Homo sapiens: one gene and its partner. The protein of the gene in region 2 interacts with the protein of the main gene of each other region in a biochemical or structural test. Each region holds a gene or a part of one and is shown on either strand. Other genes may lie near its edges.

Region 1 (3,155 bases), on a different chromosome or scaffold from region 2:
GGGAGGCTGAGGCAGGAGGATCCCTTGAGCCCAGGAGTTCAAGGCTGCAGTGAGCTGTGATCCTGCCACTACACTCCAGACTGGGTGAAAGAGCAAGACTCCAACTCATTAAAAAAAAAAAAAAAAAAAAAGAGGAAAGAAGCTGGGAGAGTGGTAGAGTGGGGGCAGAGAATCATCTTATGAGCCCTTTCCCAAATCAGAAACTGAGGCCTGAGGTAAGCAAATGGACTTGCCCAAGGCTACACAAAGTGAGGCTGCTTCTGGCCTCCCCTAGGGTGGTGAAGGGCAGGGTGGGATGGGGAGGAAGTGGCCTCCTAAGGGGCATGGGGAGGGAGGCTGGAGGGGGCAGAGATCATCCTGGCTGCGGGCCTGAGGATGAGTGAGCAGGCGCAATATGCAGGGTGGGAAGGAAGATGAAGGGAAGGTGGATTCCTGGGAGGAGGCAGGGGTTCTCAGCAGAGGACCAAATCTTCCTGGAGGGGCACCGGGGGCCGAGCACACCTCCATCCCCATCAGAACAGGCCTTCAAATCACTCCAGAGATCTTAGCATTTATAAAAACTGGCAGATTTATTCTGCAGGGGCCCATTTTCAAGAAGCTAAAGGTGAAGGTGGGAGGGGAGAAGTTTCCTCCCCTTCTCCTTTCTCCCTCATCTTATTTCCTCCAAGGGGTAAAAAAAATGGCCTGGACCCCAAAACCTACCCAAATAAAAAATCAAAAAACTGAGGTTCCAAAAAGTTACAGCATCTTATTTCCTCATAGAAAAGGGGAAGGAGCCAGAGGGAAGGGGAGTCCCTGGGGTGGGGGGATATCTCACCCCCAGCCCGGTGAGACATCCCCTCCCCTTAAATAGCTGCCCCAAATGGGGCAAGCCCAGGGCTATAGCATTTAAAAACTCCCACATCCCATTTTATCAAAACCAAAGAGAAAAAAAAATTTCCCTTTTCCCCCAAAACCCAAATATATATATATTTTTTTTTCTTAAAAAAACCAAAACTTTGAAGGCATTAAGCGTTAAAGTGAATCTAGAACAAGGGAATGTGAAATTCCCTCCTTCCTTCCCCCTTCCTGTGGGGTTCATTGGTGCATCCCCAGCAGAGGGACCGGCCCCAAGGGGATGGCAGAGGGGAAGGACCAAAGGGAGAAAAGGGCGGGGGCCTCCCCAGCCAATCAGCAGCCAGTGTGGGTGTGAGCAGGGAAGCCACACCCCCTTGGAGTTTTCCAAGTGGGATGGGGAGTGGGAACGATGCATTCCTGTGTAGTCTTCAGCCAATTCCAAGTCAAGTAGAGGCAGGGAAAGCAGGGTGACAGGCCGGGTGTGCGGAAAGGAGAAGCGGGTCTTCTGGGTCCCTGTGGTCAGGGAGAACCCCGCTTCCTCAGCTCCTGGACGAAGGCTGGAAGGAAACAAGGAGCAGAGGTCAGGGGCAGAGTCTCTGCCTCCTCCCTTCCAAAACAGGGCTCTTGCCCAGGGACATGATGCCTCCAAAATAAGTAAATGTTTAAGAACAAAACCAAAGCAAACCACCTCACCTTCAATGATTTCCTCTTTCACTTTCTGCAATTCCTTCTTCACCTCTTCCAGAAGCTCCTAAAATTAATGGGGTAAAACTAATCAGGAGGGGGTACCGGGACTTGCAGGAATGAATCCCCCTTCTTTTATTTTTTGAGAAGGAACCTTGCTCTGTTGCCCAGGCTAGGGTGCAATGGCATGATCACAGCTCATTGCAGCCTCAACTTCCCAGGCTCAGGTAATCCTCCTGCCTTAGCCTCCCAAGTAGCTGGGACCACAGTCACCTGCCGCCACAATCAGGTAACTTTTTCTTTTTCTTTTTTTTTTTGAAACAGAGTCTCCCTGTCACCCAGACTGCAGTGCAGTGGCCCAATCTCGGCTGACTGCAATCTCTGGCTCCCGGGTTCAAGCGATTCTCCTGCCTCAGCCGCCCAAATAACTGGATTACAGGTGCCCCCCACAAGGCCCAGCTAATTTTTGTATTTTTAGTAGAGACAGGGTTTCGCCATGTTGGCCAGGCTGGTCTCGAACTTTTGACTTCACGTGATCCGTCCCCATCAGCCTTCCAAACTGCTGGGATTATGGCTGTGAGCCACCATTCCCAGCCTAATTTTTGTATTTTTAGTAGCGATGGGTTTCACCATGTTGGCCAGGCTGGTCTTGAACCCCTGACCTCAGGTGATCCACCCACCTCGGCCTCCCAAAGTGCTGGGATTACAGGCATGAGCCACCGCACCTGGCCTTCTCAGGTAACTTTTAAAAGTTATTTTTAGAGATGGGGGTCTCCCGATGTTGCCCCAGGCTGGTCTCAAACTCCTGGCCTCAAGCAATGCTCCCACCTCAGCCTCGCAATGTGCTGAAATTACACACATGAGCCACCGTGCCCTGCCAGAGTCCCCTCTTTCTTGTTGATGGAAAAGCCAGGGGTAGTAGGTTTGAGACCTACCCCTACATCGACACCATGACATCGCTGTCAAGGTCGCAGAGTGACTGGAGGATTCTAGGGGAGAATTCTGGATCCTTGGAGCCGGAAAAGTACTGGAGAACATCCAGTACCAAGGTTGGCAAGCGCATTCCAGCCTCCTGCCAACTCCAATTGGTGATGGACAGCTGGGTCAATGTGCGGAAAGAATTCAAGGCACTCATCTGGAATGAGCGCGGTGATAGATTAATAATGTCTGTCACAGGTGCCAGAAAAGGGGGTGTGGAGTCTCGGTCATCCTTGACCCAATCCAGTTTCTCCATTTGTCAGATTGGAAACCTGAGGTTTCTGAGATGTTATCTAGGATCATACGGCATGCCAGTGGCAGGGGCCAGACCTAGATCTCTCTTGCTGTGGTCCCCAACTTCCCCCCCAAGTTACCTGTTTCACCCTCTGTAGGTCCGAGTAATCACTGGAGCTGGGCGTGCAGGGTTGGGTCTCGGAAGTGGTCACCGAAGAAGACGACTTCATCCTGGGGGAGTTGGTGTGGTTTGGGACAGCAATGAGATTAGAGAGAGGACCTGCTTCCCCGCCTCCTATTCCAGGGGTCACATTGAGCTCTGCCTTATAAATTGGGCAAGTCCAAGTATTTTTGGGGCCCCAGTTTTTTTTTTTTTTGGTTTTGGTTTGTTGTGTTTTGTTTTGAGACAGTCACATTCTATT
Region 2 (3,750 bases):
AGTCTAAAGGCAATGGAAAGGTAGAGGATGATCAGGGGAATGAAAACAGAATTAGTTTGTGCATAATTTTTAAAGATTTTTCTTCTCTTCTTTTTCTTTTCTTTTTTTTCCCCAGGCTGAATTGCAATGGCACGATCTCGGCTTACCACAACCTCCGCCTCCCGGGTTGAAGCGATTCTCCTGCCTCAGCCTCCCAAGTAGCTGGGATTACAGGCATGCACCACCACACTCCGCTAATTTTGTATTTTTAGTAGAGACGGGGTTTCTCCATGTTGGTCAGGTTGGTCTCGGACCCCCGACCTCCGGTGATCCGCCCGCCTCGACCTCCCATAGGGCTGGGTTTACAGGCGTGAGGCACTACGCCCGGCCATAATTTTTAAACATTTTTCTGTTGGCACCTGTCCGGACCATGGATTTAAATGATCTACTAACATGATGAGAACCCAACGGGGATACTTCAAAAGAGACAAATGAATATACAGGTGGCCCGAAATGATTTTATAAAGTCCTCTAACAACCACACTTCTTTCCAGAGTGCCAAAGAATTTGGCTCATTTAAGGTGTTCATTTTTCAAAAAATGGTTATACAAATGCAAACTTCATTCAAATCAAACCTTACCTTGAGCTTGTTAAATGCCATGTTTAGCATCACTCAAGGCTTATACCAATTGTTGTTTTAAAAAATTACATAGTGCTTTAAGTATTTTTACATCTTAAATACAAAGGAATAATTCTAACTGTGGAATCAGAGCTGTCTTCCTAAGACAAAAAGACAAAGACAAATATCACAATTAACTATTAACTGGAGAAACACCTTTTCAAACGTCCCTGTAACAACTGGATGTGTTGGACAGCATAACCAAACTCATTAAGAATAGTGTGAAAAACATCACCATTACCTAGTTCTCACACACAGATACCTTCTTAAACTATCGAAACCTGTATCTGAATATACGAAGCATTAAGAATCTGCTTTTGAAAAGGAAATGAATATCTGAAGGTCATTTTCTTTTCAATCTTTTCTCATACTAATAATCACTGTTAATATCCACTTTTAAAAAATCGCCTCTATCAGGCACCCGGGAATTGCTTAACAAAAGCCACTTAATGAAACCACAGTTCAGACAAAAAAAAAAACTTAACTGCATAGAAAATATTTATGAGTTTACTTTCCTAACTCATACAATTGCGTCCTTGTTTCCAAAGCCTTGCAATTCACATCAGCGGGAACAAAAAAATCTAACACACAGCAGAAAGCTGGCTCTCTAAAAGAAAGCATTTTTTTTTAAAGGCAATGAAGGACCAAAAACTCTTTCTTTTAAAAAGATCTTAGAAGTTCCTCCTCCAGAGAAGACAGAAAACACTGACAAACCGCACATTGTGCAGATGTTCAGCCCCGAAATGCAGCCTCGCAGCCCTTCACTCCGCAGTCCACCGGTTGCATCTGCACCTCCGGGCAGCGCTCCTGCAGGGCGCAAACACCCAGAGACCCAGGGACCCGGCAGCCCCGCGCAGGCCTCCCGCGTGCACCGCTCAGCGAGCGGGTCTTTCGCAGACGGCGGGATGCCCCAGGAGACCGCGAGGCCGGCGCAGCCCGGCGAGCTCCCGGAGGGAAGGCGGCGTGTCAGAAAGGATCGGACCCCAGCAATGGCCCCGGATCGGTCCCGCGCGGTCGCCTCCTTTTCCCGCTCCGCCGCCGGGACCCCCCTAGCCAGTGCTGAATTTCCCAACTGGGAAGGACCGAGTCACTCCACCCTCCGGGAAGTCGCGCGCTCATCCGTTTTCGGCAGCGCCGGAGCCCGAGCCGGGGACCGGGCGGACACCCACAGAGTCCGCACCGCAGCGCGCTGCACGCTCTCGCCCCCGCCCGCCGGCCCGCGCCCCAGCGAACTAACCGCAAAGTTGGCCCGAAGTGGCGACGGCGCTCTCGTGGAGCTCACCCGCCGTCTCAGCGCGCCCCCGAGCAGGGACCGGGCCTGCCGGGGCCCTCGCCGGGCTCGCGCGTCCGCATGGTACCTGCCGCACGAGCCGCTCCCGCGCCCTCTCCCCGCGCCCGGCCGCCCAGCTCGGCGCCGGCGCCTCACGCTCCCCGAGCGCAGGAGATCCCTCCGCCCCGGCCCCGCCCGCCGGCGCCGGCGCTCATTTCTCGGGCGCGGAAACTCGAGCCCACTTTCCCCGGCTGCCGGCTCTGGGACCGCGGGCTCGGCCACGCAGTCCCGCCCGGACCCAAAGAGCCCCAGTCCCTGCGAACACCAGGTCCGTGCTGGGAGACGAGAAGGCGCCCAGCGGGGTCTAGCGCGGCTCCGAGGGGCAGGGCGAGGCTTGTGATGCCGAGGTTAGTTACGGCCAGCCACAGGCGCTGTGCAAGGAATTGGGGAAAGCTCCCTGCCAAGAAAGGGAAACGTTAGCTTAGCTAAAAAAAAAAAAAAAAAAAAAAGGCTGGGGCCTAATGAGAAAGCTTCCCAGAGGCATCCCTTTAGCTTTTCCATAGCCTTCTGGGAGCCCCTGAATCTGCATTTGAATGGCGCGGCTCTGGGTCCGCGAAGGTTTGGTGGGCTGAAGTCGTCCTTCAGGTCTCCAAAGGAATGCAGCTAGGTCGGAATCTACTTCCTCCTTCAATCCCCAGAAAATGGAAACGCTTCCCCCGCGACCTTTTTCTGCCGAGTTAGACCCCAGGCCCTCCCCGCCGCGGGCGCCTGGCCTCCCCCGCTGACACCCCGGACGCCCAGGCCTGTGGGACAAAAGGCAGTCGCGGCGTCCCGCGGGCTTCCTAGCCCGGGAGTCGGCCCCAGGGGCCCCAAAGCGTGACCCCAGGCCGACAACTGCAAGTTCCTAGGCAGAGGGGAAGCCCCAGCGCCGAGAAGCCCGCTCCGAGAACTCCCCGCGCCGGGCGCCCAGCCTGAGCGTCCCGGGCGCGGAGCCCATCCCCGGTGCGGGCAGGGCTCCAGCCGCAGGCTCGGCGCAGGGCGGACTCGGCCGAAGCCCGGAGGGCCGGAGGCGCTGGGACGCAGCCCGGACAAGAGGGCGGACTTGATCTCGGAAAGTTTGTGGGACTCAGGCATTTTAACACTGGGAAGACAAAGAGATCCGATTTCCCTGGGACTGGTGAGGGGAGCTTGGCGGGGAGGGGAACGGCAGGGCAGTCAAGTGTGAAAGAGAATTTCCTGGGTTCAAAGTTAACGCAGTCACCTTATAAGCCATCTTAGAGGTGACCGGAAAAAATAATAATAATAAAGGTGTCTAGCAGGTTGTGGCTGGGAAGGAAAAATAATGCCTGCAAGATGAGTGTGCCGATTCGTAGCCCTATATTCCCTGCCCACCAGTTGGAATACACATAGATTCACACATCCAGCAAATGCAAACTCCATCATCCAAAGACGTGTTTGTCCCGGCCATAATTGCTCCAAGTGCTTACAGGTCAATTTCATACATGGAACACCTCGAAAGTGGGTGACCTGATCTCCAAGCCCAACCGGCTTGTGCCGCTTGCCGAATTGTAAATCTCAGCAAAACCCAAACACACCGGAACTCCAGCCGTTTCCTGGGAGCGAGGAAGCGGGAGTAATGCTAAAAGGGGAAAAGAAGAACAGTAAAAAAAGTACAAAGATACCATTCCCTGACGTAAAATCACGGGATTTTTTTTAAATGGCACAAGAGAATTCCTGGAGAAGATTACCATTAATTAATAAGTAATAACGCTTCCTAGGGCTTACTAGATGTTTTACATCTGTCTGGGAATCCCGATTTTCC

The links.
Region 1: the proteins of FAT1 (region 2) and VASP form a complex in vitro, tested with the Homo sapiens proteins (one study listed by BioGRID).

The regions. Positions count from the first base shown.
Region 1 is NC_000019.10:45,524,379-45,527,533, reverse strand, and holds the end of VASP (vasodilator-stimulated phosphoprotein), read right to left. Parts: intron 2,965-3,155; coding exon 2,874-2,964; intron 1,589-2,873; coding exon 1,531-1,588; intron 1,395-1,530; coding exon 1,357-1,394; 3' UTR 551-1,356; downstream 1-550. UniProt on the Homo sapiens protein: Ena/VASP proteins are actin-associated proteins involved in a range of processes dependent on cytoskeleton remodeling and cell polarity such as axon guidance, lamellipodial and filopodial dynamics, platelet activation and cell migration.
Region 2 is NC_000004.12:186,721,769-186,725,518, forward strand, and holds the start of FAT1 (protocadherin Fat 1 isoform 1 precursor), read right to left. Parts: upstream 2,089-3,750; 5' UTR 1,896-2,088; intron 1-1,895.